Regions from separate parts of the Homo sapiens genome. Here region 2 is linked to region 1. The links come from fine-mapping of genetic effects on gene expression. A gene starts in region 1. The other region holds a variant in brackets. All regions are shown on one strand. Distances are between the middles of the regions. Region 1 holds the start of WDR49 (WD repeat domain 49). Region 2 overlaps WDR49 (WD repeat domain 49).

Evidence for each region.
Region 2: its variant is fine-mapped to the expression of WDR49 in nasal epithelium (TOPMed, PIP above 0.99).

The regions. Positions count from the first base shown.
Region 1 is chr3:167,644,724-167,661,037 of GRCh38, forward strand. WDR49 (WD repeat domain 49) reads right to left here and starts at 9,219. Exons shown (of 19, transcript NM_001366157.1): 1 at 9,111-9,219; 2 at 8,538-8,776. The coding sequence starts at 8,702. RefSeq lists enhancers at 8,433-8,956, 8,957-9,479.
Region 2 is chr3:167,523,197-167,539,510 of GRCh38, forward strand. It overlaps WDR49 (WD repeat domain 49), which reads right to left. Exons shown (of 19, transcript NM_001366157.1): 11 at 13,674-13,804; 12 at 9,683-9,781; 13 at 7,919-8,083; 14 at 5,856-6,043; 15 at 4,624-4,821. Among named protein-coding and RNA genes, the nearest start is that of SERPINI2, 57 kb to the left of the region's middle. The variant G/C (reference allele first, on the strand shown) is at 5,409.

The sequences.
Region 1 (16,314 bases):
CATTTTATATTTGATATATAAAGGCAAATTGCCTTCCAGAAAAGCTTTGTCAATTTACAATCTTAGTAAGAGTGCCTATTCCCTTGGTTCTTCACCATCAGTGAATGTTATTGATCTTTTTAATATTTGCCAATCTGATGATTATAAAAAGAACGTCTTCTTTCTGATTAGAGTATCAAATCAAATTCTTAACAAGTTTGGGTGCCTTTTCACATGATTAGAAGCTATTTATGTAGCATTCTTTCTTGAATACATAAAATATAATATATGTAAATATATTCTACATTAAAAAAGCTACATGAGATATGTATATGTGTATATATGGATAAAAATGCACTTAAAATACACCAGAAAATATTAAGAGTAGTTACCCAGGGGAGTATAATGACTGAGAATGGACCATGCTAAGGGGGAAATTTCATGTTTAGCTTGGATTTTTTACCATGAGAATAATGTTACTTTTATTTATTTAATTTAATTTATTTATTTATTTATTTTTAGTTTTGAGATTGAGTTTCGCTCAGTCACCCAGGCTGAAGTGCAGTGGTGCAATCTCAGCTCACTGCAACCTTCACCTCCCGGGTTCAAGCAATTCTCCCCCCTCAGCCTCCCGAGTAGCTGGGATTACAGACACCTGCCATAATGCCTGGCTAGTTTTCGTATTTTTGTAGAGATGGGATTTTACCATGTTGGCCAAGCTAGTCTTGAACTCCTGACCTCAAGTAGTTGTGCCCGCCTTGGCCTCCCAAAGTTCTGGGATTACAGGCGTGAGTCACCATGCCCAGTCTTATTTATTTTAATAATACAAGGATTGCTAAATAGGAATCATAAAAATAAATGAAATTTTATATGGCTGGCTATACCCTCCTTTTTTGTTTGTTTGCTTCTTCTCCTTCTACTTCTGGAAAATAACTCAGCTGCTTTATTTCTTGTACCAACTCCAGTTGTTTCTCCACCACCTTGAAGAATTTTGTAAGGTCCAGTCTTAAACAGTCTGTTCTCTCCTACAGATATCTCATCTCATGGCCTCTCTCCTCCAGAATCTATGTTGCGATTCTCTCACACTCAATTTTGTCTCTCATAGCCTGCCTGGGACTTCTATTTGACTTTAAACAAATAATGGCATTGCGTTAATCAGAGCATCTATGATGAAAGCAACCAAAGGAACATATAGGAAGCTATGAGAAGAGAAAACAGGGTCATTGTAGGGCGCTAATCCCGCCTGCATGGTAAGAAAAGGCTTTCCTAAGGCAGTGGTATTTACACACATGTGAGTAGGAGTTGGCCAGGAAATTGTTGGGGATGGGAGAGAAATATTCCAAACTGAGGCACCAGCATCTGGTAGGCCCTAAAACAGGAGTAAGTAAAATATGATCAGCATGACTGAAACTCTTTGGGTAATGGCCCAGGTCAGATAATTTTGTGATGGACTCATTGGAACCATAAATCCAGACTAAACACCTGTGTGTGTGTTGGGAGTTGAGAGGAGGGGAGTTGCACCAGAAGGAAGAAGGAAGGATTCCCCTGAAAGGAATAGATCTTCCCATTCTTTACAGTCCTAGGAAGGGAACATGGAAAAATAGGTCTTAGACTAGAGTGAAGAGAAATATTTTCTGCTATCTCTGGGGCCAAGGATCAGTTTGGCCTCTGGGTTCTAAGACATGGGCAGTCTGATGTGTTTATAGTGGGATTGAGGAGCTGAGAGTAGCTCCTTGCCACAAATATATGTCCAGAAGTGAGGAAGCAGAACAAGTTAGTACGAAGTCATGAGAAAGGGTTCGAAGCAGCATTGTCCAATGGAACTTTCTGCAATGATGAAAATGTTCTATATTCTTTGCAGTCCAGTATAGTAGCTACTGCGTACTTGAAATGGCTGGTGCTTGTGAGGAACTGAACTTTATTTTATGAAATTCTTACTTTATTTAAATAACCAAATGTAGCACATATTGAAGAGTACACATCTGTAGCAAAACTAGTGTGATAATTTGGCCTTGGGTCTATTGAGAAGATTAGAGAAAGGTGTACACATGCACACATGGGAAGTGAAGCAGTAGAGGAACATAATGTCTCTGGTAATGCCTCCACAGAGATGTCGGTGCCTAGAGAATCAGGATTTCATAATAGTCACATCCATAGAACGTTGGTGAGACATGATGAAGGGAGAAAAGACCCCAAGGGGCTTTTTCTTGCACAAGTATGAGGTAGAGCCTTGGGAAACGGTCAGAAATCACTAAGGGACAGTTTAGAGGATTCCTATTTCTAGCAATAGAGTGAGGGTGTCTTGTGTCATCATTAATACGTTATACTTGGCAAAATGTGACAAATTGAAACCAAAATGCCACAAATAATGGTTCTTTCATTCTTTTATTCATTTTTCTTGTTTAACTCTCAGGAAAATTTCAAAAGTAGCAGTGCCCTTAGTTCACAAGTCTGGCTAAGCTGATGCACTACACATGAACAGCAGTAGACATCTTTGCTTTCTTTCTCCCTCCCTCCTCTGTAACAAGCTTTTCTTGGTTGTCTTCACTTCTCCAGTTTTGGCCAACACTCAAGGTTAAACCACTTGTTTACTAAAGGCACTCTTCATCACACACTGATCCAGATTAATTTTTGTAAGTGCCTGTTGTAAAAGTACACAGAGAGTTTGAAAAGGCAGGAAGCTGTTAGAACTTGTCACAAAAATCAGCACAAAGGCAGCAGGATTTGGAAGGCAAATTTTTCATTTGTAGTGAGATACAACTTCACTTCCTTGAGTTTTGGTGATGACGCCATTTGCTAGCATTATTCATGAATTTTAACAAATCAGATAAAACCACCACAGAATTCCTCTGCCATTTCTAATTGTGCCAACTGCAGTAGTATTGGATTTGTCTTCATGCTATCACCTTAATGTTTTCTGCTGCCATTAAAAATAGGTATTTTGATTGCACTAAGAGCAATGCGTGAGAAATGGTATGACCTGCTGTCTTTGTTCAGCAGATGATGAATTGACTGAGGCTGCAGAATGCACTTTTTACTATATACAGGTGAGACTAAGCTTCACCTGTTTACCTTCTCACAAGTCTCCACTGAGATGCCTTTAGAAAGAAAAAAATATTTTTCAAAAAAGCAATTGGTTATTATCTTCTTTTCATTCTTCCACCCTTTCTCTACCTTGATTTCATTGTAGCAGTTGTTGATTATTTGCTGATTATGCGTTAGTTCCAAGTTAGCAGAGCACAGGGCCTGTGCACTATTAACTTAACATGCATTTTGTTTAGGAAATCTTTATCCTGTTGGATTCATGTTCCTTAGAGCAACATGCCAAAGGAAGGTTATCTTGTGGCCAGTGGAAATCATGCCATATATGGACTCCAAAGTTGACAATCTGCCTCTGAGTTCTGGCTCTGCCCATGGGAGAATTCAATTGAATATTTTTAGTCCTTCATCTCCTTATTTGTAAATGGGAAGTAAAAATTTATGCCGTGCCTATGTTTCAGGCTGGTAAAGGATCAAATAACATGATGCCAACATAAGTGCTTTATAAAATCTTACTATACTTGAAAGGTATTCAATTTTTATTCATCATTTTTACCTACACTGATTTCCAGAAAGAATTTTAGTTCAGTTACAACAGAAGATACATAGGCAATAGGACCGACTATTAAAACAAAGATAAAAGAACAAGAATTATATAATAAAATAGCAGATTATTGTCCCAGAAAACCTAAGTTAAGCATAGTTGTAAGAGTTGAACACTAAATTTAGCTTTGAACTTCCTGGCAGCTAAGACAGAACACAAAATACAATTAGACACAAAGGTCTCCATAATTTACAAACTGAAGCATGCTGGTTCATTAGGAGAGAAGGAAATTTTCCTCCCACAAAATTCTAAGAGGACCATGGGTGAGATCATTATCTGGGCACACAGCTGTCCCTACTTGCCATACGACTTGAAGTAACTTGAAGTTACCTGTAGCCATATGACTGAGTGCTGGCCAATGGGATGTGAGCTGGACCACAGAAAACATTCCCTAGTGCTCTCCACTGCTACCAGCTGATGTATGGCTTGTGTAGAAGGCGGAAGGTGGGGACAGCCTGAGACCTGAATCCTTGCTTGCAACTGCTTACCCATTAGAAATACCTGCTTTTTACTTTATGTGAACAGGAAATAATACCTCTGTCATGTTGCAGATATTATATATTTTACACAGTTTGCATACACTATAAAAAATATTTTCTAATTCTCAGCATTGTTGGATAGCATAATATCCAACTTTATACCTTAACAGTTTTATCTAAGAAAAAATTTTAAATGAACTTTATGGACCATCTCATTTTATCAGAGATAAGAACATCTAAAGGTTCTGGGGAAAGGGAGTGAAACAAAAATGAGTAATTTTATTTATGTGTTTGGGATGGTGGTGCCTGGGTAGAAAGGCAAGAAGGAAGATATAAGAATAGTTTTGGAGTATGAGACACGTCTAGGAAGACCTGTTCATTTGGGTACCTTAGTAGTGAAGGTACAATGGGCAATGAGAAGGCCTAGAGAAGGATGGGTCCTCCATAAATTTGGAGGAAGCTTGACAGTTTAGAAAGAAGGACAAGTTAAAAAAAAGGTAAGAAAAGGCCCAATCTGACTTTCTATATTCCTGTAGAGCCTAGCTTGCCTGGCAGGACATCAACATCCTCAGCTTTGTCTTGAAGCAAACAAGCACAGTTCATAGACCCTGCTGTAGAATGCTTTCTAAAATCCCCAAGATACTGTTGAGGTGTTTTGGGAATTTTATAAAGATAATCAAGGATGAGAATATCAAAATTCTTTAAATGTAATTGTATTACCCGTTAAGCACAATTCTAGAACTTGCAGAATTGACTACTGAACTTCTCCAGTCTTTTGAGATTCAGTTTGAATAAGTGCATTGTGTTTAGATCTCATTCACCTCCAAGACAGATTTGTTTTAAGAATTCTCACCACACAGTCTCTGGGGCAGTCTTGCTAGGATTTTTACTGTGCCTTTCTTACACTAAAACTATTTGGCCCTTCCTACTTTAAGGATAAATACCTCACATTTTACATGTGGCTTCTAGGTATAGTTAAAGCTAAAGATTTAGTAGGGCTTGGGCAAATGATAGCATGGAGCTGACAGGGTAAAGCCAGCCTCCAGCTCTCAGCTTACAGTCAGGCCAGAACAGGTGTGCCAGGAGAAGATATAGACACAGTTGCTGATAAAGGCAGTTCAGGACCTAACCTGGAGAGCCCAGGAGCACAGGGCAAACTATGGTCTCAGACCAAACGGGCAGCAATTAATCTAGGATCAAGGTCCAATGTTAAACCATCATTGACATACAGAGATCAACAATGGAGAATGTAAAAAAAGAAACACTCAGAACCTACATAGCCAGACTCTCAGGAGAAGCTCAATAAATATCAAGCTCCATGGCTTTCCCAAAGTTCCATTTTCCTTAGACCAAAATTTTTACTTCTCACCACTCCTATAAAATCAGCAAACCACAGCTACTCTTCCTCAAACAATAGTTGGCTTTTGGAGTTTCAAAGAAAATGTAAAATATGGTTGACATCAAAATAATATGAGCATCCAGAGACCATGTCATTTCTCTAAGTATTGTAAGTGCTACAGGGAAGTTTGAGTAACAACCATTTTACGATTCTATGAATAATGCAAGTTTCTCTCCCTTCAGGCTGATATATGGCTCTTTTGACACCATCACTTAAAGGAAAATGAAATCCACAAGTTACTTTTCTGTGCTTCTACCCAGGTAACTTATTTGTTCCAAAGAAAAGAATCAAGACGTCAATTAGAATTTTTGCCTGCTAAGAAAATATGAAATGAGAGATAGAACAATTATGCTTTTGACTCTTCTATGTGAATTTATGTCTTTGCAGCTCTAACCACTTCCTTCCACAACTAATAGGAATGAAGACGCATAGCAGCAAGTGTCACTTGAAGTTTAATTTCCTTTAAGAAAAGTATGAATTAGAATCAAGGCACTGTCAGAGGTCACATGGTTTAACTTCTACTTACTAAATGAGATAATTAGCTCAATTATCTAATGTTAATTGAGCACTTACTCTCTGTGGCATGCACTTTTTAAAGTGCTTTCCAGATAGTACCTCCTCTAATCTTCATGAAAGCTCTGTTATCCTCATGTTAGAAATAAAGGAAACTGAGGCCCAGAGAGATTAAGTATTTGCACAGAGTCACATTGTAAGTAGCAAAGCCGGGATTTAAGCTCAGGAAATCTGACTCCTAGATCTGAAACACTGCATGATTCTGATCCATTTATACAACTGCACAATGAACATAAGCACTAATTGCTTTATTCCTAAATGTTACTACTACGATTAGTATGGTATGTGATATTTTATTCGGAAATACACGTAAAACATTTACTGCATAATTCAAAGACCCAACTTCCTGTTTTTTCACTTAAGAATTGCCACTGCTATTTAAGGAGATGGACTTCACCTAATATCTGACAACTCTTCAGCCCCAAACAAGCAATCTGTGTAAGAAAAAAAAAATGAAGATATAAAGGAATCTGGTGCCAGAATCTTGACATTTCTAAGAGCATGTCCTTAGTAACTGGACCACAAATCACTGCCTTTAGAGTTCAAAGTTGCAGGAATGCTATTGAGGGCATTTTATCCTTTTACAGCAATCTATACCTGTGGCCTCTGGGCCTAAAACTCATGACAGATGGACTGGATACCATTAAAGTCATCTAGTGCATCATTCTTCTTTAGGTGTCCGTGCTGTGTTTGGAAATCATGTTGGCTCAAAGGTCTAACTTTTAGTACTGGCTGCACATGTGCCATGGGATTATTCCATTCTCTGGCTGTTGAGTCTGCTAAAATGGATGAACTTCATTTTTTTTTTTTGAAGGTACACCTGCAAAGCTCAATTTCTTTTTTAGAAAAACTGTCTATGTTCATACAAGCTCCGAATTACCTTCTCTTCTCCTCTTTGGTCCATTAGTTCCTGCTTTTCCAACCGGTAATGTCAAAATAAGTGGTCTGGCCTTTGAAATATTTAACATAAAATAGAAATAAATTAAAACTTGAGGTTGAATTTTCCAGTTTCACTTGGGTTCATTCAAGACTAATCTGCAGTTTGGAAAGAACACCCACCTCTAACCTTCTGAAGCAGTTTCACCAACACATCAACTTTATAATGTAGACTCTCCTAATAGGCCCTAGCATTCAAATTCTTTGTGTTCTTAGCACCGGAACAAAACTGCCACATTTCTGTTCACTATAGAGTCAAAGCTGTCATAATCTGCTGTTATGTTTTACTGAATGTCCTCAAGCTGTCAAAATGTTTGCTATGTCTATCAAAATATGCTAAATTTACTTGGGGCACTGGGCATGAGCAGCAGCAGTGAAATCTTTCAGACAAATGAGGTTGGTTGAATAGCAAATATATGAAGGTTGAAATGAGAAAAGTGTAGGACAGAGCATGTCTTGCTACTAAATATGATAAGTTCTATTATAAAGAAATGATTGATACTATTGGGACATTAATTTATCAATACAGGTGGAACCCAACTTGTTATATTCTTTTGTGGATATCCAAAGATAAAAATGTGTGCCTATTACAGGCTAATATATTGTGAGCTTTTATTATATTTTATTAATTTCCAGGTGGTATTCCAAAATATTTTCTATTTCAAATTAGTATGGATACTCCAAGCACCCACGGACAATCTTAAGAAGGCCCTAGATCATACTTTAGTAAACATAATATAGTAGAAATGTTGGAGGCTCATGACTACCTAAATTCTACGTCATGGAAGAGCACTTCTTTCTACCCATATTTGAAACTAAAAACCACTTTGATGTATGCTGTTCATTATGCATAGCTGCAGAATTCAAAATTCATTGACTAAGAGAGAAGAAAATTATTCATTTACAGTTAAATTCCTATGGTTTATTTTTTATGCAGAGTTAAAATGAAAAATTCTAATTTTGTTTTTATTGGCATTGTTCCAGGATTTACAAAATGAGTGGGAGACTCGTCCCTCATAAGGGATCTTGGGACAACAAAGTGCCAGAATCAGCTTAGAAAAGGAGCTGTGCCACTTAGGGTGAGTGAGACAGGAGGAAATTTTTTGCAAACTGGGTATGCATATTTGCATTTGCTGAGTTCTATGTCCGTATTAAATGCAAGAACAATTATTCCTGGAGGTCACCTTAGAGATCTGGCTTTCTTCACTCACAGCCATAATTTTTTGTTTCCCCAAAATATGTTGATCTCTAAGAAAAAAATTTTTTCCAACAATAAATAGTTCTTTCTTGATAGTAATGAAATTCAGTGAAGCAATTTCAAACTAAAGAATATTATTTGGCCCAAAGAACTGAGGGGCAAAGCTACCAAGCACATTGTGTTAAATCCAGGCCTAACCAATTATTTTTAATTCTCTGCTATAACAATTAAGTGTATTTTTTTAATGCTTAAAGAAAAATATCTCTGTGTTTCATTCTAGGCTCCTTCATGAACAACTCAAACTATCTGGTCAATAAGCTTCACACTTACCTCAAAGGCCTTCTGTATTTTTACAAAGTCACCCACGCTGAGTTGGTTTTCAAGCAGGCCTGTGCCATAGTCTTCAAATGCAGTTACACCTTCTGTTCTCTCAGGACTCTTTGGCCCAAGCTGTGACCCTATGTTTAACTCAAGTACAGCTTTCTGGCAACTCATAATGGCTTCACCTTTTCTCAGTTGCCTTCAACTATTTCTATAAGGATGGATCTTCTTTTTCCTTCAACAGGTGCCTTTGAAAAGAAACTCAACTTAGCAACAGAATTCCAAAATGAAAGTACAAACCTTTCAAGGCATACGATCAGGAGGCAAAATGTTCAAGCTGAGGTAGGAAATGAAAGCCCTCAACCCTCTCACTTATTTGATTCTAGAGTTTATTTTCAAAATTTACAGTTGAATGCTTTTAAAATGGTATTTTTACCCCTTCCTTATACTCTGTTTAACCTGGCTTGATTAAAAATGTGTAAAGCTTTCCCCACATTTATAGTAACTGACACAGAAAACAACTTCCAATCCTCATTTTAAATGCATTAGAAAAGCACCTTCCCAAAAATCTCTTTAACTAACCTTGCTTCCATTAACATGTTGTAGTTTTCAATTCCACTTTCTTGTCTGGAAGAGTTAGATGACAAAGCTGCAGAGTTTCCCTACCAATGAAGTACTTGACTCTGAATGCCACCTTCCCAGCAATGTGGAGTTGTTTGTTTCATCTGTTCTGATCCTTTTGTATGTTTCCTGGCAACCAACACAAAGCCAACTAAAACTTTCCCTTTCACTTCCCCCTCTCCAACTGAAAGTTTAAATATATAATGTAAATGTTGAAATGGTTTTTTTTGAAATAAAAGGACAGTTCATTCCACTCATTTTTTATTAAACGACATCTTGTATTATTTAAAGACAACTTTTACCATTATATAGGATATATATTATGAAACTATATGATTAGTCAAAGAGAAAAGCATGAAATTCTGGAATTTTATGTTTTATACACAGAAAATGTTTTATTTTTATATAAAAGGAATCTGTTTCTTATATTCTTTTTGTCTTAGTTTCTATGTATATAAAATAGAGATGGTTCAAAAAAGCTTCCAACTTGTTGAAAATGTGATAAAAAAACACAGCATAACATAATATGATAAATCTAATGATAAAATTGCTTGCAGTGTCATTACTGGTTCAGCTAATAATAATGAAAAGGAGGAGAAAAAGAAGAAAAATTAACATTTTTTGAGTATTAACCATGTGCCAGGCACTAAAACTTTATGTTCATTGTCTTGTTTAAGCTTCACAACAATCCTACAAGGCAGATGTGATCATTATCCCCATTTTACTGATAAAGAAGCAAAAAGCCGGGCAAGGTGGCTCACGCCTGTAATCCCTGCACTTTGGGAGGCTGAGGCAGGTGGATGGCTTCAGCTCAGGAGTTCGAGAGCAGCCTGGGCAACATGACGAGACATTGTATCTAGTAAAAATACAAAAATAATCAGCCGAGCATGGTGGCGCACACCTGTGATCCCAGCTACTCGGGAGGCTGAGTTAGAAGGATCCCTTGAACCTGGGGGGCAGAGGTTGCAGTGAGCCAAGATTGTGCCACTGCACTCCAGCCTGGGCAACAGAATGAGACCCTGTCTCAAAAAAGAAAAAAAAAAAAAGCAAAGAAAATGCCAAAGGTCACACAAATAGTAACATACGGAAGAGAACAGAATGGCTCCCAAACTTCAGATACTGCATGTATTAGTCTGTTTTCACACTGCTAATGAAGACATACCTGAGACTGGGTAATTTATAAAGGAAAGAGGTTTAATTGACTCATAATTTCACATGGCTGGGGAGGCCTCAAAATCATGACAGAAAGCTAATGAGGGCAAAGTCATGACTTACATGGCAGTAGGCAAGACAGCATGTGCAGGGTAACTCCCATTTATAAAACCATCAGATCTCATGAGACTTATTCACTACCAGGAGAACAGTATGGGGAAACCGCCCCCTTGAGTCAATTATCTCCACCTGGCCACGCCCTTGTCATGTGAGGATTATTACAATTCAAGGTGAGATTTGGGTGGGGACACTGCCCAACTGTATCACTGCACTTTAGATGGATGTGCCCGTTGCACTTTATTTTCACTTCTGTAAACTAAAAAGTTGGCATTACATCTTCTCTAGGGTCTCTTCCGGCTCTAACATTCTCTGAGCTGGTGTTCACTAGAGGCATGGTACAGAACAGAGAGAAGAGCATCCTGTAGGAGTTCCTGTACCCATTATAGAAAAAAATGAAGTTTCATTCATGCTTTCATTTTTTCATCCATCTCTCATTATTCTTTCAAAAAAAACATTTATTAAGAGCCTAATAGGCAGGGCACGGTGGCTCATGCCTGTAATTCCATATTTTGGGAAGCCAAGACAGGCAGATCACTTGAGGTCAGGAGTTCAAGACCAGCCTGGCCAACATGGAGGAACCCCGTCTCTACTAAAAATATAAAAATTAGCTGGGCATGGTGGCAGGCGCCTGTAATCCCAGCTACTTGGGAGGCTGAGGCAGGAGAATCGCTTGAACCTGGGAGGCGGAGGTTGCAGTGAGCCAAGATCACGCCACTGCCCTCCAGCCTGAGTGACAGAGATAGACACTGTCTCTCTCTCTCTCTCTATCTCTCTCTCTCTCTATATATATATATGCCTAATATATGTCAAGTCCTGAATTGTGACCTGGTGCCTGCCATAAGGGCTTTACAGTCTAGTCAGGGCAATTATCCGTCTAGCTCATCTTTAATGCCAATTCCAACCTCTTGTGTTCAGTGTTCCAACACAGTGCTGTGTTCAGAGCATTCTGAAGCCATAGCTAGGCTCAAAGGGAAAGAGTGGCATTATAGATGTGTATATATGTATTGATATGTATCACACACACAGAACGGGGGTGTATTTACCAGATTTGCTTTTCTTCGATAAGTCCTTCTTGTAAGTTAGGAAAACATTTTTAAGCCCTAATACTACAAGTTCCCCTAAGTTATCTTACATGGGAACACGATTTGTCTTCTTATCACCCTAGTTAGTAAGTTAATAATACTTTAAATCAGCTGGATCAGCCCCATAAATGTTTGTAAAATGTTTTATAGTGATATTCTAGAGAGTTGGGCTTAGTTCAGTAGCAGACACTAATGAGGGAAGGGAGAAGAAATAGGAAAAACATTCTGTAAAGATGAACCACGAGAGGTAGGTATCCCACTGGCTGACAATGCAAAATTCTCTAATTATTCTAAGACAGACAAGATGCCTGGCCTACTTAGCTTCCATAAAGTTGCAGCCCTAAATGTTTTCATTAGTCAAAACAGGAAAGTATAATGAGCAGCTAACAAATTACAGTAGAAGTTAATCAATTGACACAGTTTTCTTGCTATAAAATTATGACATTAGAAATAATTCTTGATCATAAAGGCTTAAATGGCTCTAACCTTCTCTGTAACTGTGTGGTTAATTTTCAGGTTAAATTCCTGCGGCACTGTAAAATCCATAACTAGTGTCTTGACTGGTGAAATTTTCCCTCTTGCTTGCCATGAATCAAGTATGATATTGTGAAAATCAAGATGGTGACAGTTTAATCACCTTTAGAAGGCCAAAAAGCAGATTGACACTTGCCCCCTTCTCCTGTAGGGATCAGACAACACCTGCCAGCATAGTGGAGCCCTAAGCACCAAGAGGGCAGAGTAAGCTGATACATCCATTGGCCTTTGACACTTTGGGACTGAATAATTCTCCCCACCGAATAGACACACCCATCTGTGTCTTTATCACAATTCACAGTCCACACCCAAATCCCTGCTCTCTCCTTCCCCCACAATTTATTGCCACTGACATAAATATAGACCTTCCTTTTATATTATTTAAGGACTACTTTTTACCATTATATTTTCTACAAAGTAGGATACATATTATGAAACAATATGATTAGCCAAAGAAAAGAGCATTAAATTCTGGAATTGTATGTTTTACACAGAGAAAATGTTTTATTCTTAAAGGATAGGAATCCATTCCTTATATTCTTTTTGTCTTAGTTTCTATGTATATAAAATAGAAATGGTCCAAAAAAGCTTCCAACTTATTGAAAATGTGAGAAAAACACAGTATACCATAATATAATAAATCTAATGATAAAACTGGTTCAGCTAATAATAAAGACAAATGAGATACATCTCTATGCCCACCATTGCTCAGAGACACATGTCTGAGCATAACATGCCCTACAAGGCAGTTATGATCATTAGCCCCATTCTCCTCCCCCCCCACAATTTATCCCCACCAACATATAGATCTCCCTTTTCCTTTTCTTCTAACTCCTCTTTCTTTCTTTGCCCACCATTCACACTGAAGCCTGTTCTTACTCGTTAATCTTTGCCTAAATTCTCCCTCCACCTCCTCACTTCAACTGAAATCAGTTTTACCTTAGGAACCTCATTTCCGGCCCAGCCTTCTCAGGTCCTCACTGCTCCTTGTTCTTCTCAAGTCCTCACTGCTCCTTCTCAAGTCCTCACTGCTACAGGAAGAGAAAGAAAGGATGTTTTTCCCATCATCTTCTTGCCTCTTGACCTCATGCCTTCCAGCAAAGCCCCAGACACCCGCTGGCTCTGTGTAAAGGAACCTCCTCTCAAAGCCTGGGGAAAGCTCTGGCCCTGCCCTTGGCACCTTTTAAGCCCTCAACAGATATTAGTTTCTTTCCTTCTTTGTTCCTTATCCTCCCAGTTAGAATTAATTACTCCTTTCACTCTGCAACCACAGCATTTTTTTCAGACTTTAAACACAGCACTGTTTCTTCCTGCTTTGTAATGTAATTAGTTGTCTGTGTATCTCTCTCTCCCATTAGATTAACTCCTAAGAACAGGGATGATACCTCACTAATGCTGCAGCCTTACATTGCCCAACATGGTGTTCTGCATAAACTTCTCGACACTACAGCAATGTATGCTCATTTGTAAACAAGGTGGGTAAAGGAGACATTCACCTATAACCTTGAGTTATCAAGCAAGGGTCCTGGGAATAGGCGGCATTGAATCAGAAGGAGAAGCAGAATTCTGTGAAAAAAAGAAAATCATATGACTCAAAGGTCATTAAGAAAAAGAGAGAAAGAAAATTAGTGACAGAAATGAAATTTGAGACAGTATCTTCAAGCCACTTAAAATTATCAAGTGCTTTTTGAAAAAATGCATTTTCTTCATACAATTTCTGTGTAATGTACAAATATGTGTTGAAGCTTTACTCTGTCCCAGGTGCTGCTTCTAAACACTGGAAAAGCAAAGATAAATGAGATACATCTCTATGCCCACCATTGCTCAGAGACACATGTCACAGTAAATGTTGGCTTTCAATTAATCCTATCTTTTGAGAAAGTAGTTTCCATTGTTAAATTAACAACACTGTAATTTTTAAATCATTTTCTTTCTTTCCTTTTTTTTTTTTTTTTTTTTTTGAGACAGAGTTTTGCCTTGTCACCCAGGCTGGCGTGCAGTGCTCTGATCACAGCTCACTTCAGCATCAACTTCACAGGCCCTTCCACCTCAGCCTCCCAAGTAGCTGTGATTACAGGAATGTGTCACCATGCCTGGCTAATTTTAAAACTTTTGTGTAGAAACGGGGTCTTCCTATGTTGCCCAGGCTAATCTCAAATTACTGAGCTTAAGCCATCCCGCTGCCTCAGCCTCCCAAAGAGCTGGGATTATAGGCATGAGTCACTGTACTCAGACAAAACTGTATTTTCATAACAGCATTTCTCAAACTTTTCAAGTATTTGAACACAGAATTATTGAAATAATGATATCCTAAAACAACTAAATATATAATTTTGCAGTAAATTACATATCATAAAGAAGCAAGCAGCGGTAGCTAAATTTAAAAATAGATGCGGAAATAGATTGTAAAACTGAGAAAATTATTGACTTAAATGTTCTAACTTACTTGAAAAAAGCCCACTAAGACTTTATCAGTAGACACTTAGGATCCGCTGAATTTAATATTGAGATCAGTACTTAAAAGTATTCATGGCTGGGCACAGTGACTCACGCCTGTAATCCCAGCACTTTGGGAGGCCAAGGCAGGTGGATCACTTGAGGTCAGGAGTTCAAGACCAGCCTGGCCAACATGGTGAAACCCTGTCTCTACAAAAATACAAAAAATAGCCGGGCATTGTAGCACACACCTGTAATCCCAGCTACTCAGGAGGCTGAGGCAGGAGAATTGCTTGAACCCGGGAGGCTGAAGTTGCAGTGAGCCAAGATCGCGTCATTGCACTCCAGCCTGGCAACAGAGTGAGGCTGTCTCAAAAAAAAAAAAAGTAGTCAGAAGGTCAATCTATTTATGCAAATTCTGATGAGTATTTCCAACAACGAATCACTTTTGTCCCTCTTTGCTTTAGCATATCTTCTCTTTGAAATCCAGCATCCTTGTTTTCAGTCACACGTGGGTCTCTCAGTCATCAGTGGGGCCTTCATAAGGGAGCCACTTACTCGGCAATTGCTCTGAACTAGCTTACTAAATTCCTTTCCATTGCCTCTCTGAGAAAACTGCCTGCTATTCTACCTGGGGCTTTAGAACAGTGTGTCAAAGCCACCTAGATATCGAACACTCGCATTCATGTTTAGAGCCACTAGAAAACAGTCAAAAAATCATTGCATGAAAGGAGTCACTGATAATCCAGTAAGCATTTACTGATTGTCTCCTTGAAGAAAGACAGAAAGCAGTTAGGTGGGAAATGAACAATTATTGAGCTCCTAGTATATGCCAAACATTGTGTTAAGCACTTTCACAAATGTTATTTTACTTAATTCTTGTGATATCTCTGCAAGATACCTAATGTTTTCTCTCTTTTTTTGACAGATGAGGAAACTAAAACAAAAAATATCTCATCCAACTTCATACAACTTGCAAATTCTATAATGTAGCAATGCCAATAGAATGACGTTATGCACTTTAAGAACATTACATAGATTAGTTCCTTTAATTTTCCTGGAAATCCTATGATATGGGCACTATTATTGTCATCATTTTTAGCTGAAGAAACTGAGGCTTAGGCAGGGCAAATGACGTGTTAGGATCATCCAGCAAGAAGTAGAAAAGCTGGAGTTCAAATCCCAAGTTTCTCCATAGTATAAAGCCCTGTGCAGGGTAGACTGCTAAACACCACAATAAATTCTAACCCAGTTCAGGAGCTAAAACGTGCAAAAAGTAAAGAAATAAGAAAGCCCATACTAGGAAATAAAGTCAAATGGGCTTAAAATTTGGAGTCAGAATACCAGGTTCAAGTCTTGTTTCTCTCATTTTCAGCCCTATCATCTTGGGCAGGTTGAGTCATTTCTCAAAATGAAGATAGCAGAATTGTTTATCTCATAGAATCATTTTAAGGTTAAAAAGATAAAATACAGTGAAAACTCTATGTAAATTTTAAAACATTATGCACATGAATTAACATTAATATTATTACACAGTTGGAAGAAGGTAAATTTCCTGCAACCTTGGGAAAATAAGGTAGGAGTTCACAGAGAGATTGGAATATTAGAATTGTAAAACAGAATGAAGCAAAATTATCTATATCATGATGTTTCACATTAAAGCTGAGATTCTGTAATCATTTTCATTGTGTTTAGGAAGGTCTTATGTCTAAATCTATTCCAGAGAGCAACGCTATATCAATACTTCAATGTTAGTTATTAAATGCAATGATTGTGTGCGCGCACACATTTGTATGAGTTAGTAGATGTGTGGTTTTATCATTTTGAAAAAATGCTTTCTT
Region 2 (16,314 bases), 120 kb before region 1:
CAGAGCCAGTCAAATAATATCAATGAATGAATTGAACCTAATACAAGAAAATAAATGGGTAATAAATAGTAAATAAAACTCACCCTCAGTTTTTAAGGCAATAAAAAAATTCAGAGACTATACTGAATTAAAGAGAACCCATTTTACATAAAAGCCATAGTTACTCTTAAGGAATGACATACATTCTTTTTTTTTTTTTCCACCTTAAGTTCTGGGATACATGTGCTGAACATTCAGGCTTGTTACATAGGTATACATGTGCCATGGTGGCTTGCTGCACCTATCAACCCATCATCTAAGTTTTAAGCTCCACATGCATTAGGTATTTATCCTAATGCTCTACCTCCCCTTTCCCCCACCCCGCAACAGTCCCCGGTGAGTGATGTTCCTCTCCCTGTGTCCATGTGTTCTAATTGTTCAACTCTCACTTATGAGTGAGAACATGTGGTGTTTGGTTTTCTGTTCCTGTGTTAGTTTGCTGAGGATGATGGTTTCCAGCTTCATCCATGTCCTTGCAAAGACAAGAACTCATCCTGTTTTATGGCTGCGTAGTATTCCATGGTTTATATGTGCCACATTTTCTTTTTCTGGTCTATCATTGATGGGTATTTGGGTTGGTTCCAAGTCTTTGCTATTGTAAATAGTGCTGCAAAAAACATACATGTGCATGTGTATTTAATAGTAGAATGATTTATAATCCACTGAGTATATATTCAGTAATGGGATTCCTGAATCAAATGGTATTTCTTGTTCTAGATCCTTGAGGAGTTGCCACACTGTCTTCCACAGTGGTTGAACTAATTTGCACTCTCACCAACAGTGTAAAAGCATTCCTATTTCTCCACATCCTCACCAGCATCTGTTGTTTCCAGACTTTTTAATGATTGCCATTCTAACTGATGTGGGATGGTATCTCATTATGGTTTTGATATGCATTTCTCTAATGACCAGTGATAATGAGCTTTTTTTCAGTGTTTTTTGGCCACATAAATACCTTCTTTTGAGAAGTGTCTGTTCATATCCTTCACTCACGTTTCGATGAGGTTGTTTGGTTTCTTTCTTGTACATTTGTTTAAGTTCCTCATAGATTCTGGATATTAGACCTTTGTCAGATAGATAGATTGATTGATTGCAAAAATTTTCTCCCATTCTGTAGGTTGCCTGTTCACCCTGATGATATTTTCTTTTGCTGTGCAGAAGCTTTTTAGCTTAATTAGATTGCATTTGTCAACTTCAGCTTTTGCTGCAATTGCTTTTGGTATTTTAGTCATGATGTCTTTGCCCATGCCTATGTCCTGTATGGTTTTGCCTAGGTTTTCTTCTAGGGTTTTTATAGTTTTAGGTTTTACATTTAAGTCTTTAATCCATTTTGAGTTAATTTTTGTATAAGGTATAAGAAAGGGGTCCAATTTCTGTATTCTGCTTATGGCTAGCCAGTTTTCCCAGCACCATTTATTAAATAGGGAATAATTTCCCCATTGTTTGTTTATGTAAGGTTTGTCAAAGATCAGATGGTTGTAGGTGTGTGGTGTTATTTATGAGGCCTCTGTTCTATTCCATTGGTCTCTTTATCTGTTTTGGTACCAGTACCATGCTGTTTTGGTTACTGTAGCCTTGTAGTATAGTTTGATGTCAGGTAGCATGATGTCTCCAGCTTTGTTCTTTTTGCTTAGGATTGTATTGGCAACATGGGCTCTTTTTCAGTTCCATATAAAATTTAAAGTAGTTTTTTCCAGTTCTGTGAAGAAAGCCAATGGTAGCTTGATGGGAATAGCATTGAATCTATAAATTACTTTGGGCAGTATGGCCATTTTCATGATATCGATTCTTCCTGTTCATGAGCATGGAGTGTTTTTCCATTTGTTTGTGTCCTCCCTGATTTCCTTGAGCAACGATTTGTAGTTCTCCTTGAAGAGGTCCTTCATGTCCCTTGTAAGTTGTATTCCTAGGTATTTTATTTTCTTTGTAGCTATTGTGAATGGGAATTCGCTCATGATTGGGCTCTCTGCTTGTCTATTATTGGTGTACAGGAATGCTTGTGATTTTTGCACATTAATTTTGTATCCTGAGACTTTGCTGAAGTTCTTTATCAACTTAAGGAGTTTTTGGGCTGAGACAATGGGGTTTTCTAAATATACAATCACGTTGTATGCAAACAGAGACAATTTGACTTCCTCTCTGCATATTTGAATACCCTTTATTTCTTTCTCTTGCCTGATTGCTCTTTTTTTAAGAGAAATGAGAAACTTGAATCTTTACATGAAATCTATTATTGTTTAAATGTGGGCAACTAAATCAAATTTTAATTATTCACTGGATGAAGAGACACAATCAAAGTCACTGGACATCAAATCAATCAGATGAGGAGAGTTGCCAGTACATAAATTCTGCCTAGCACAACAGTAGTTAGTGCACAAAGTGGGGCACTGAAGAATTTCAAGCATCATTTGAATTTCTTCTTATCCCACAATCACCTGTCAGCTTCGTGGGATAAACATGCATTTATGAATAAATCCTCTTCACTCCTATTTCTCCAACTCTAGAAATAGACATACCATACAACTTACTTTTAAAAATCTAACCTGAAAACCAGCCTAAGGTCAATAGCTATGTTATAAAAGTGATTCTAATTTTTGTTTTTTTGTTAAACAAACAAACAAACAACAAAAAAAAACTTCCCTTTTCTCCTCTCTCTTTCCTTTCCCTCTTTTCCTTTCCCTTTCCCCTCCTTTCTGTTTCTTCTTCCCCACACTCTTTGCTCTACATCTTGGGACTAATGGCACTTATATTCAAGACAGCTTGATAAAAGTCAATCCTTTAAAAAATAAAAATTAAAAAAAAGAAGTAGTGCAAGCAGAAGGAACTAGAAAACCGTTTTCCCCAGATTTGCTAGCCTTCAATTTGTAAAACTGACCCAGCTCTGATGACTCTTCTCCTGTCTTGAACAGAAGGGAAAAAATAAAATTATTCTCATGAGGGCTTTTTGCATCTTCAAAAAAGCAAGACTTCACAGAAACAACAAATAATATCAATAATACAAAAATAAGCAGTTTTACAAGCACACATTTCTGAATTAAAATAAAATTTAGCTACAGATTATGTTTGGTGGGTGAACTTTATATGGCACCTACACCTAGAACGGTGTTATTTCTTGGTTCGACCCCGGATGTCTAAGGAACTTCTTAGGTCACCCACTTGATGACGTTTCGTTTCTTTACCTGTTGTTCAAACCTCCACCTCATCTTGCCACAGCCTCTGTCAGCAATGCTTTGGCTTCTTCAGTGGCCTGAAGCAGGCTTCCACCCTCTTTCCTGTCCAGACTGCCAGCCATGTCCCACCCTGTCTCACTCATCACAAGCCTGTATGAGTTCCCACTTAGCCGCTTTTTTTCCTGACTGAGAAAAGTCTAGTGCTTGTCTTATTTACAAAATACAAGAGATTGCTACAGCTCCGGAGTGTTACATTGAGACTGTCGTCTAGCCAATGTGGGTCCACCTCCCAGATGATTTTCTGATTTACCAACACCCTCTGCATCCTAAAGGGGTGCTTAGAATTCTTTCCACACAGGTTGGCCTCATCAAACTGACTTTACAAATACAGCAACAACAAACCTTGTCTTCCAACACTAAAAGAATTGCCTACTCTCCTGGCATAAGATTGGCACCTGAGGCTCCTAAATAGAACCAAATCAGCTGGCCAAACAGATATTGAGGCTTCACTTAAACTTATACCAGGTTTGAATAGTACTGGTTGAAACCAGTGAAACATATTTTGTCCGCAAAAGCACAAATGGAACAGGAAAAGTTCCCAAGAAAGCAAAAGGAAAAAATAACAGAAAATATGAGACTAAATATTTCCTTTCTTTCATGACTCCCATTTCCATTTCATTTCATAGGCAGGAGCAAGTCAGATCTTGAGAAAGGGGTTAAAAATGTGAGCTCTGAAGTGACCCAACTTGAGTTAAAAACAAAACTCTACCACGATTAGCTTCTGTGAGCTCAGGTGATTTATTCAAACTCTCTGTGCCTCTGTTTCCTTATCTGTAAAATGGGAATTGTGAGAGCTGCTCCCTCCTGAGTTGAGCAATTGTGAAGATTAAATGAGTTAATTCTTGAAAAACATCTTAGAACAGTACCCCACGTACACAAGAAAAACTCAGCAAATGTTAACTATTATTATTTGGCAGCAGTAAACCAGATAATGAATAGGATGATTGGTTTTTTTTTCTAAAATTTTCTGCATTTGATTATTACGTTCTTAGTTAACAGTCATAATCACCTGTCTTTTTAGTTACATGATCATTTTATCCACGTTGAACTTTTACTAAATGTTGAAATTGAAGAAATTTATTCTAGAGGAGAATTTTTTCTCAGAAATCCTAGAATATTTTGAGCTGCACAGAGCCCCCATCTTTCCATGTCTCTGGTGTCTTCCACTTGATGGAACTGTCTTGGTTAATGGAAAACAGGGCAAGAGTCGCCTGGAGCTACTGCTTCGGAAATGTTGTCAGTTCTTTCATGACTAATGAACATTAAACAGCTGATGAGATTCAAATAGAAATCAGCCCAAGTTAATACTAAATGTCAAGTAAATACTAGAATAATAAAGAAGCAATATTTCTACCTGACCAAAGATCCAAACAGGAGCATTGCAGACACCAGTCACACAAATACTGCAGTCTGCAGAGGAGGAGATAATCAGTAACTGACCACCTGGCTCACACATCTCTAAGGAACTTATTCGGTCCTCATGAGGTTGGAATGATCTTATCAGAGTTGGGGCCTTGGTGATTTTGTTCTTACTGGAGTTAAGACAGTACTCCTGAATGAAAAGAAATACCAGAACTCTAAAAAATTCAAATATGAAATGATTACAATGACATAACACTTTTAAAAAAAGGCCGATTTTCAAACTTGGGAACAATAACCTATGATCCAAATGCAAAAGAAAAGTTCATGATAAAAGAGGCTAGAAAACGAAATTACATTAAAAAAAGGTTTCTAACTTATCTGATTACTTGGGAAATAAAAAAAAGGAACTAGTGGGGAAGGAGGAAGGAAAGAAAAATATAAATAGTAAAGCCAATTATTTGATAGAGATGAACTTTACCACATACAGGTGGTCACATATACAACGTTCAAATATTATTAGAAAATTGAGCAGGTAATCAGTGATAAAAAAGAAAAAATCCCAAACTAACTCAGGGTAACAATAATGTTAAATGAAGGAATAGTCCTCTAGTATTTAAATTACATTTACAATCTCATTGCAGATAAGGTGTAGCCTCACCCCAGGCAACCTAGTGAGACCCTGTCTCTACAAAAAGTAAAATAAATAAAATAAAATAAAATAAAATAAAATAAAATAAAATAATTAGCTGGGCATAGTGGAACACTCCTGTAGTCCTA[G/C]CTACTCAGGAGGCTGAGGTGGGAGGATGGCTGGAACCAGGAGTTTGAAGTTGCAGAGAGCTATAATCATGCCACTGCACTCCAGTCTAGGTGACAGAGGGAGATCCTGTCTCAAAATAAATAAATAAATACATACATACATTAAAAATAAGGTGTATCCTAATTATTTACATTCAAATAATGCTGCAGTGCTTTACTAACAATATTGCATTTCTAAATTGGATGACTTACTTAACAGAAGGTTGTCAATATTGAGAAAAACATGATTTTCCTCATTAATTATTTAAAAGAAGTCTCTGCATGAAACTTGTAAATGTTTTATTTAAAACACTTAGACTATACATTTTTTCCTTTGTTTAGGAGACAGACAAGGCTTGATTCATAGTTACCTGCAACAAAGGGTCACCAAAAATCTTAAAGGTAATGTGATAATGTTTTTCAATTTACCTCTATATTCCAGATTTTCAACCATCCATCAAGATCTCCTGTGGTAAGGTATCGATTCATCTTATCAGTAGACATAATAATCGATCCAACTCCACTATGAGCCAAAAATTCAGCCAGAAGTTGCTTCTTATATATATCCCAAAATCTGACATAACCAGATCCTCCACATGATACCAGGTTAGCTCCTCCTAACATGTAAGGGAAAAATCTAACTAGAAAACTGAACAACAAATGCCAGAAATAACTTCTTCAGTGGCTTTCCCTGTGGAAAGCATGTGATGTTGAAGAGGTGAGTAGCCCTGAGATCAATTCCCAGCACCACTTTAATTTTCTCAAATATAAAATGGAGGTGACGCTATGATAACCTCACTGGTTTGTGTTGAGTATTAAATGAGATAGGATATTGAAGTGTTCCATTACGTTTAGTTCCCTTTTCTTCATTCATTATTCTGATGTTTTGGGGGTATTTAAAAGTTAGATAGAATTGTTTCTTCAGATAAAACATGAAATATTAATTCCAACATTATGATAATATTCTCATTATATAAAATTAATCTTCCCTAATAACCCACTGGACATATACAATGAAGTAAAAGTCCATATGCACAGATTTGGATGGAATATGTAGTGATAGCAGAATAGCTATTGACTTCTCCGTTTGGCAGCATGCTTAGAATTCTATTTATGAGCTTTCTTTAAATGTTTTCATCAATAATTCATTGTAAACCCTTATAAAACCCCTTTTTGGTGAATGAGCCTAGAACTAACCTTTTCATTTTCCATTTTTATAGGTTTTGTTGAAGCACTTTACCTAAGTTATTCTTTTGTGGCAAGGTTCCTATTATTTGATAAATCTGTAGATGACTTCCAGTTTGCTTCACAAATGTACTGCCAATAAACAATCATATCTATTTAAGGTAGAAATAATAACATGTAGCTGCTTCAGTGAGAACAATCTGGGAATACTGATAACATTAAAATTAGTATTGAGGAAATGAGAGTAATTTCAGGATAATAATTCATATTGTGAGTATAAGCAAGTTCTAGAAAATGGAAAGTTTTAGAATCTAATTGTTTCAAAGTTTATTCTAAACATCCCAGAATGTTTTTAAACTATACCTTTATTGATTCTTAATGATTAAAAATTTTATATGAAAATTATACAGATTTTCATCTGTAAATTAAATATGGGAAACAATAAACATAATTCAGATATGTTCATTTCCTTTTCAAATACATAATACATATATGTCTAGTTCCTAATGTTAAGAAAAATATACCCTGAAGATACGATTGTTATTTTAGATGAAAGGTAAAAAAATATACATTATTCTCCAAGGCAGATTTTCATTTTGGAAAGATGCAGGCTGCATCAACACCATGCTAATATTGCCACTGACAACAAGGAAAAAATTAAGCAAATGGTTATTTCACTTACATAATATCATATAACTACAGTAAATCATAAAATAGCATCAATGTTAGTATACATCTCTGGAGAAGATATAACCAATACTTAAAAAAAAAAACAAAACGATGAGAACAGAGAAGAGAGCAGGCAGCTCTTGTCCTGGGATTAGCAATTCTTTCAAATTCTGTTACTGTTCTTAACATCCATGCTCCTCATTATTCTCTTCCAGCCTATTTTGATTAGGTGCTCATATAGTCAGTCTCAGACTCAACTTTTCTGCTATATGTGGACTTAAGCTTTGACTTCGGCATACATCTTGCTGTGCCCCTACTGTATTAAAACCTCTTTATGACAGGTCTGGGACAACAATTCTGATTGTTGCCCGTATCCAATAATTTGTCAGAATTTTTCCCATCTTGATCTTGACATATACAACACTGGATAAATTAGTAGTGGGATGTAGTCTGGCTCCTGCTCTTGAATCCATCCTCCTCAATTCCAACTTCCTTTGCCATGGTCTGTGACCTCACTTGACACACTACTGACTGGTTAGCTACGTGCAGTCAAATTCTACAAGATCTAGTAGAAATAGATTGGATTTTCTTTATTGCTCCCTTTCCAACTATATGTAAAATGTAAATATATATTTTACCTGTCACTGCAGTGTTTTTTCTTGCTTTAAGAAAGCAAAGTCTCATAACAGCATTTTTGCCCTCAGTGTCAATCTCAAAGTTGCGGACTCCCGTGGTAGAATGGTCTGCCATGGGGTGGGAGGGTTGGCTTCTCCCAGCACTGAGAAGTTTTTGAGGTTTTGTATCTGTGAGGGAGACAAAGCCAAGTATATTAATGAAGAAAAATATCTGCTTTTCAAACTAATGCCTATGAAATAGCAGGCCCACATCTATCACTATATCCATTGACTCCAAGTCTCACAAGAGACTTCCAGTCAACATCTATCAAGCCTTCTGCTATTTCTCAACCCCAACTTGAAGAATTGTTTGACATTATTTTTGTTTTTCATGTTCCATACACACTTGCTCTGTTTTCACTTGATATGAATTAAGTAAGAACTTAATATTGGCATCAATGCTAACATCTTAGGGATCCTAATATGCCCAGGACAAACGTAATTCCAATACTGTGGCATTTTCAACTTATTAATCATTAAAATTAATCTTGGAAATATTATAATGAACATGAGTTCTAAAGACTATTTATGTTTAATTAAATGAGCCTTTTTAACAATACTATTTGTTAGCGAGTTACTCTGGAGAAAACATTTCTAAGCATACTTCAATTATCTAATGACATCATCTCCAGGCCACACTAGTAAACACTGGGGATATTCGTCTCAGAATCTAGGAACAGTCTGCCCATAGTTATGAAAAATCTATACAGACGTATTTTCAAAATTCCAAAATAAGAAATCTATTGCAATGCCTTTCATGTCTTTTAGAAATTTGATATTTATTCACTTTTCTCATTAATTATCTCTCTGTGTATTGTAAAGCCCAGTGTAGAAGAAGAGGCAGAATTCCAACCTCCTCATGGCAAGTTCAGATGAATCTTAAAATGATTAGCTCTTAGTACATAAAGCAGGTCAGAGCTTTGTGTTTGCAACCAAGTATCCCCTAAATCTCTTAAGTTTGTTTTCCTACTCTTAAGAAAATAGCTTCTCAGCTTTTCACCCAAAAAGAAAACTGCATCTGATGATCAGTCCATTCCTAAAGTTCAATTCAGCCTCTATGAGTTTATTCAGTTGAGACAACAGAACCTCACTGGGCCATGAAGAATGACATTTTCATTACCAAAATAAATTAGTCTAAAGAAAAACCTTTAGTATCTAAGGAAACTGAAATAAAATGTGAAAGGCAATTGTCAAGACATTTTACTTAAGTATAAAATATTCATGTGCTCTGCTAAACTCCCATAAAATACAATATACTCCCATCTAATGTTCCTCATGGGCTTCTAAAGCAAGGAATAATTTAAGATTTCCAGGTGGCATAATATTTATTACAAGCTCTAGATTGAGTCTGAACAGCCTATCGAGTGAACATGAATTTCCATTTTTTTACCAAAGGGTATCTAACGTTCACTCTTAGGTAATTTGGCAAGGTTTATTGAAAAAAAATAAACTAAATAAAAATGACAGTCTTGCTCCCTGCTGTCGGTAGTTCAGAAATACCAATGTAGCATAAAGAGAAGAAATGGCATGCCATGGAGAGTGTGCTAAGCCAAGTAAATCTCAAGGTTCTCTTTAGCTACTTTGGCAAGACAATGATATCCTTAATCCTTCAGGCTTATAGCCAATCATCTATAATTTAGGATCAAGTCGCATCAGGCACATGCATGAACAACCAGGCCTACTGTGATTTGACTAGCCATGTTATTTTCGTTTCAAACTCACACTTACCTAATTTTGACTTTAGCAACCTCTGGTAATCAGGGTGAAGAACATGGTGAGCATTCTCTGTGCTATTGTTCCATAGAACAATTTCTCCATCATAACTCCCTACACAAGACAGGATGGAGAATATAAATTGCCAGGAGATTAAGATAGAAAATATGAGCAACAGCAATCAGAAGAAGTTATTAGCAACATATCTTCCACAGAATATGGCACATAGTGGGCACTCTATATTTTTAGAAACATGAATAATAATAATTGGTATTTGTTTTAACTCTAGAGCTTACAATCCCCACAGTATAACCTGAGCATGGGTGTGTAGAAATTACTGTTGTTTCCTTTTATTTTATGGTAATAAAGCATTCAGAACAGATGCTTTGCAAATAAAAAACTGGAGCTTGAGTCTTGGTTCTCCCACTTACTGTGTGACCTTGGGCATGTTATTTAACTCTGCTTGATGCTGCAATTTTCTCATCTATAAAAAAGAGTTAATAATTTTATTTATCTCATAGGGTTATTGTAGAGAATGAAAGTATTTACAATAGCACTGAGCATATTGTAAGTACTGGAAAAAATGTTAATTACCATCCTACTTTTTATTATTGGGTAAAAGCAAGTAAATCAAGTCCTCCTATGTTTCTGTTTCCTACATCCCTTCTTGTGTGTGTATGTGTGTGGGTGGGTGTGTGTGTCTTCTCTTCATACTTTCCCTCCTATATTGAATACTGAATATTGTCTTTATTGAATATTGTCTTCTCCAATCCTGAAGTTTTTCCTACAGAAAGTCCTTCAGTACTGCTCTTCACAGAGAACAGAGAAAAGCCCAAATAGCCCAAAAGCCCAAAGTGAGGTGAAGTCTGAGCAACCATGTCCTGTGGAGGAACAAAGCAGCAACGCCCAGACCATTGTTCTCAGTGGCTCAGTGAGGACAGCTACCCACTGAGCAGAGTGTCTATGGTAAGGAGAGCAGAAGAGTTTGGGTGGGATGTACAAATGGTGACTTTTTTGGGATTAGGGGAGAGGAGAGAGAAATGCACACCAAACTCTGTATTGTCCTAGAAAGAGCAATCTCTTTGGGAGGCCGAGGTGGGCAGATCAGGAGGTCAGGAGTTCGAGACCAGCCTGGCCAACATGGTGAAACCCCGTCTCTACTAAAGATACAAAAAAAAAAACTTAGCTGGGTGTGGTGGCATGTGCCTGTAATCCCAGCTACTAGGGAGGCTGAGGCAGCAGAATCACTTGAACCCTGGAGGCAGAGGTTGCAGTGAGCCGAGATTACACCATTGCACTCCAGCCTGGGCGACAGAGTGAGACTCCACTCCATCCAAAAAAAAAGAAAAAGAAAGCACAATCTCTGAAGCTCACAAATTGAACCAGGGGGATGGAGTTCAGCTGTCCATAGAAATATCCATCTTCTCCTATGCTTTACTAGCAGTGACTGACCAAATATTTCCACATAGGATTGATGGGAGGAGAATGAGTGAAGAGATTGTCTACCCACCAATACAACGGTATTTACTAATACTTTCACAATAACAACCACACCATTTTACACTTCAGTGCCCATCACATTTCAGGATGTGATCCTCCCTGCAGGGGTGGCCTTCCAGTGGCTATAAAGCTAATTTACCTACAGAGTTGGCCTTACTAGAAAGTAATTTCATTAGTCCTGAAAACAGGGGAACTTTAAATATAGATAGATCAGTAAACCTCATATTGTAACACTTCATAGATACCCTGGATCTTTTCCTGTAAGTTTTCATTCCTCTTAATTGATGACATTTTTGGTTCTATAAAAAAAATTCAGCTGTCAAAATATGGACTTGAAAATTTCATGGTGCAATCTGTCTCTATAAATTGCATTCTTTGGCCAGAAATGATACAACAATTTTTCATTCTCTTTAATATGCCACATCAAAGCATGCCTATGAATCATTTTAAGAGCTTGGATTTGTAGACATTTTGTGAGGACAGACTTTTATCAACATTATCTGGGCTAAATTATGCCAAAGAGTTACTATGTTCACATTATGAAACATCTAAGTGCCACCAACGTGTGATTCGTACCTGACAGCCCTAAAGCTGCTCCTGGAAAATGGACAATACAAATAAAAGCTAATATTTATGGATGAGCTTATTGTGTGCTGAGCACTGTGTTAAATGCTTGCACAGATAATCTGAACTATAAACCAAAATATAGATATATTATTATCAGCCAGACAAAATTATGATTTAGAGTTTAAATAACTTGCTCATTATCAAGTTGTGGCAATTGGTAGAGCCGTGAGGGGAAATCAGACAGCCAGGCACAGGAGCTGATGATCAGAACTACCAATATATTTCCCTAGAAATAAGGATAAAGAAGAGCAAGTGCTGCTTCTTCAAAAATCTATTCATGCTCAAAGGAAACCATCAACAAAGCAAAGAGACAACCTACAAAATGGGAGAAGATAGTTGCAAACTTTACATCTGATAGTATAAGGGGTTAATATCCAAAATATATAACAAAATCAAACAACTCTGCAACAAAGAAAACCTGATTTAAAAATGGACAAAAGACCTGAATAAACATTTCTCAAAAGAAGACACACAAATGGCCAACAGACATACGAAAAAATGTTCAACATCACTGATTATCAGGGAAATACAAATCAAAACAACCTAAGTGAGTGAGACATCACTTCATTCCAGTCAGAATGGCTCCTATCAAAAAATCAAAAGATAAAAGTATTGGTGAAGATATGGGGCAGAGGAAACACTTACATATGGCTGGTGGGAATGTAAATTAGTATAGCCTTTATGGAAAATGATATGGAGGAATTGAAAATAGAACTACCATATGATCCAGAAATTCCACTACTGGGTAAGGAAATGAAATCAGCATGTGGAAGAGATATCTGCACCACACCCTTATGTTTTTTGCAGCATTATTCACAAAAGCCAAGATATAAAATCAACTTAAATGTCCATCAATGAATAAATGAATAAAGAAAATGTGGTATATATACACACTGGAATAGTATTCAGCCATAAAAAGAATAAAAGCTTGTCATTTGCAGCAACATGAATGAACCTGGTGGACATTATGTTAGGTGAAATAAGCCAGGCATATAAAGACAAATATCACATCATATCACTTAGTTGTGGAATCTAAAAAGTTATTCTCATAAAAGCAGAGTAGAACAGTGGATACCAGAGGATGGGGAGGGGAGACAGGAGGGGTGAGAGATTGGTCAATGGGTAAAAAGCTAGTTATATGGGAGGAATGAGTTTTGGTGTTCTATTGCATAGTAGGATGACTAGAGTTAACAATAATGTATTGTATACTTCAAAATAGCTAGAAAAAAGATTTTTTAATGTTCTCATCACTAAGATATGATATATGTGTAAGGCTATTAATATGCTAATTACCATGATCTGATCATTGCACAATTTATACATGTATTGAAACATCATGTTGTGCCTCATAAATATGTACAATTATTAATATTATGTGTCAATCATAAATTTAAAAAGAAATATATGGCCGGGCACAGTGGCTCACGCCTGTAATCCCAGCACTTTGGGAGGCTGATGCAGGTGAATTGCTTGAGCTCAGGAGTTTGAGATCAGCCTGGACAACATGGCAAAAACCCATCTCTACTAAAAATACAAAAAACTGGCCAGGCATGGTGGGGCGTGCCTGTGGTCCCAGCTACTCAGGAGGCTGAGGTGGGAGGATCACTTGAACCTGGCAGGTGGAGGTTACAATCAGCTGAGATCTGGCCACTGCACTCTAGCCTGGGCAACAGAGTAAGACCCCATCTCAAAATACATATATATATATATATATACACACACATATATATATATATATATATACACACACACACACATACATATACATATATATATATATAAAACAACTGAGAAAAAGCTTTTCTAAAGGTGAGTGAGCCAAAACAAACCAAAACAAATCAAACTTCACCAATGATTGTCAAGTGAAAGTTCAATTTACCCGTAACAAGAGTTTGTGGAGGTAAAAACGCAGCACACAAGATGTCATCATGGTGCTGTATACCTCCTTTCCATTCTTCAGGCTGGATGAAAAATTGATTGAAGTTTTGGGGTCGAAACACAGTAATAGCCCTAGCAAAAAGGATATAGAATTTAGCTGTGGATCTAAAATTGATGTAGACATTGAGTAGCCACTATCCACTTGAATGATGTGATCCAAGACTTTTAAAAGACTATGCTGCCCAAAATTTATCCCCACTTGACAACCATAATACTGAGTTTCCCACACTAAACATTTTTATTACCTCATTAAATTATCTGGTAAATTATAAATTTTTGACAATAGAAGGTTAATTATCCTTTCATAATCGTTAACAACAAACCATGTAACAATTTATCAGATTAATTATCCATCACCACGACCCTAAAGCAAAGTTTCCCCACATGGGTATTATGAAATCACCGAGTTTTATAGCAATAACAATTAAAAGAGGGGGCAGGCCTATGAACAAATAATGTTTTGTACTTCAAACAAAGTCAATAAGGGTTTTTTTTCATCAATTTTCTCAGGATATTTAGCACTCCTTGTGGCATTTTCAAGACTTACCTGATCACAGAATCCATTCTCTTGGAGTCTACAGCATCTTGAAGAACTACAATTTGTGGAACATACTTGGAAAATGCCACCCCAAAGAAGTAGGACATAGGACAGATACATTTTGAACAGAAAGAACAGTATTAGAGAGGTCAGTATCTTCTGGCACTGCTGATAAATTTGAGGACAGGACAGGATGGGCAAAGAATGAAATGCCTTGTGCCTGGTGGGGAAGGGAGGAGTGTAAAGATTCCATTGTTGGGGCATTAATACCACCCTGTTTTCACTTGATGATCCGAGCTCTGGCCATCAGCCTATACTAAGCCTCTTGTTCCTTCTAGAGCCATCTAGATCTCATGTGAGCATTTGCAACCAAAGTTATGGGGTCTTTCACCATCATTCTCTCTTCACCTTCCTGAAATCTTTTATTCCCACCACTCTAAAGGTCTCTTAGTTGTCCTACCAGTGTTACTCCTCAGCCTCAGAGTTTCCAGTATGTTCTGCTTCTCTTCCTGCCTCCTGATCTTTCTTTCCCCACTCTTTATTTTCTATTCCCTTCTTTCTCTCACCCTTTTTAACATGTGGTATATATACACAATGGAACATTCCTTATCTTCATTCCTCCCTTTCTCTCTATCCACTCAAACTGGCTTAGAGATTTCATATATCACCATGAGTTCCAATGTCACTGCTATACAAATGGCTCTTAAATTCTCTTCATTCATAATCTTTGCTAGAAATAGTTTCCATTTGCCAGTTGACAGTTCTGTATAATGCTTCCATCTGCAAAAGATCTCAACATGTCAAAAATCCAAATTTGACATCTTCCCTCCATACCAGCCCTCTGTCTGCAATTCCCAAATATGGTTAATAGACCAACATTCCAGCCTCTTTGGGTGTCTTTCTCTTCCCCAGTCAAATCAAATACTTAGATTATATCTCTGCAATATGTTACATATTCGTTTCTTACTATTTTACTTCAAACAGTCAATGACAGTTTCCTAGTTCTGTGCTAACTACCTCATGGTTGACTTATTGTAACAGCGTACTGACAAATTTTACTGCTTCTAGTCTACCCATCTCTGGCACATTCTTCATCTGGCTACTAGATTAATTATTCTACTCTGGGGCATTTTCATTTATTCTATAAGAATTTCTTATTTGCCATGTGGAAGTCACTTTGTTCATAGTGATGCAGGGTACAGAGCCGTCAGCATAAAATGACTAAAATTCAAGGTAAAATGTGGTAAGTGCTAAGGCATTACTGATCAACTGCCATGAAAGGCCAGCATAGAAATCAAAGAAGGCTGAGTTGAACACTGATATTTGAACTGGACCATAAAATATGGGTAGGATTTGCAAGATGAAAACACTCTGGATGGAGAAAACAACATGATAAAAGATAAGGCTAATGCCCCATTAGAAAGCCTTTGCTAGTTTTTTCGTTTAGTATATGATAAAATTCAAATGTGGAGCTCTGTTATTTAAGACCCAATAATACATAGATCTAATCTATGTTTTCAGAATTATTTCCCTCTATTCTTCTATCCTTGCTTTTCAGTTATATATGAATATCCAATTAAGTATTTGAGAGAGGCACTGGAAGCCATAGAGTAAATATGGTACACCTTCTTAAGTGTTAATTTTGCTCAAAAAGTTTAAGGAAGAATAATTTTCTATTAAAATAAAGATAGATGAATTAATGCAAGAGAACGCAAAGTTTGCCTGAATTTCAAAAAAAGAATTCAAAGTTTTAAATTTATTTTTTGCTTGCAGTAGCTGTTTTGAATTGTTAGGAGCTAAGTTTCTGAAGTACACCTTCTTGTCCAACCCAAACAATATTCTTAGTCTTCTCTAGGTACCTCTTATATTTCTGTCGGTTTTGTTTTCATTCATGGTATACTTTTTCATGCCTCTATGAATTTCTTTTTACACACAGACCCACATCTACCTATTCACACACCAACTCTCTAAGGCCCATCTTATTCAGGTAGAATTCCTTAATAACTAGGATTAAAAGAAATAGTTCCTCTTCTGACCTCTTAAC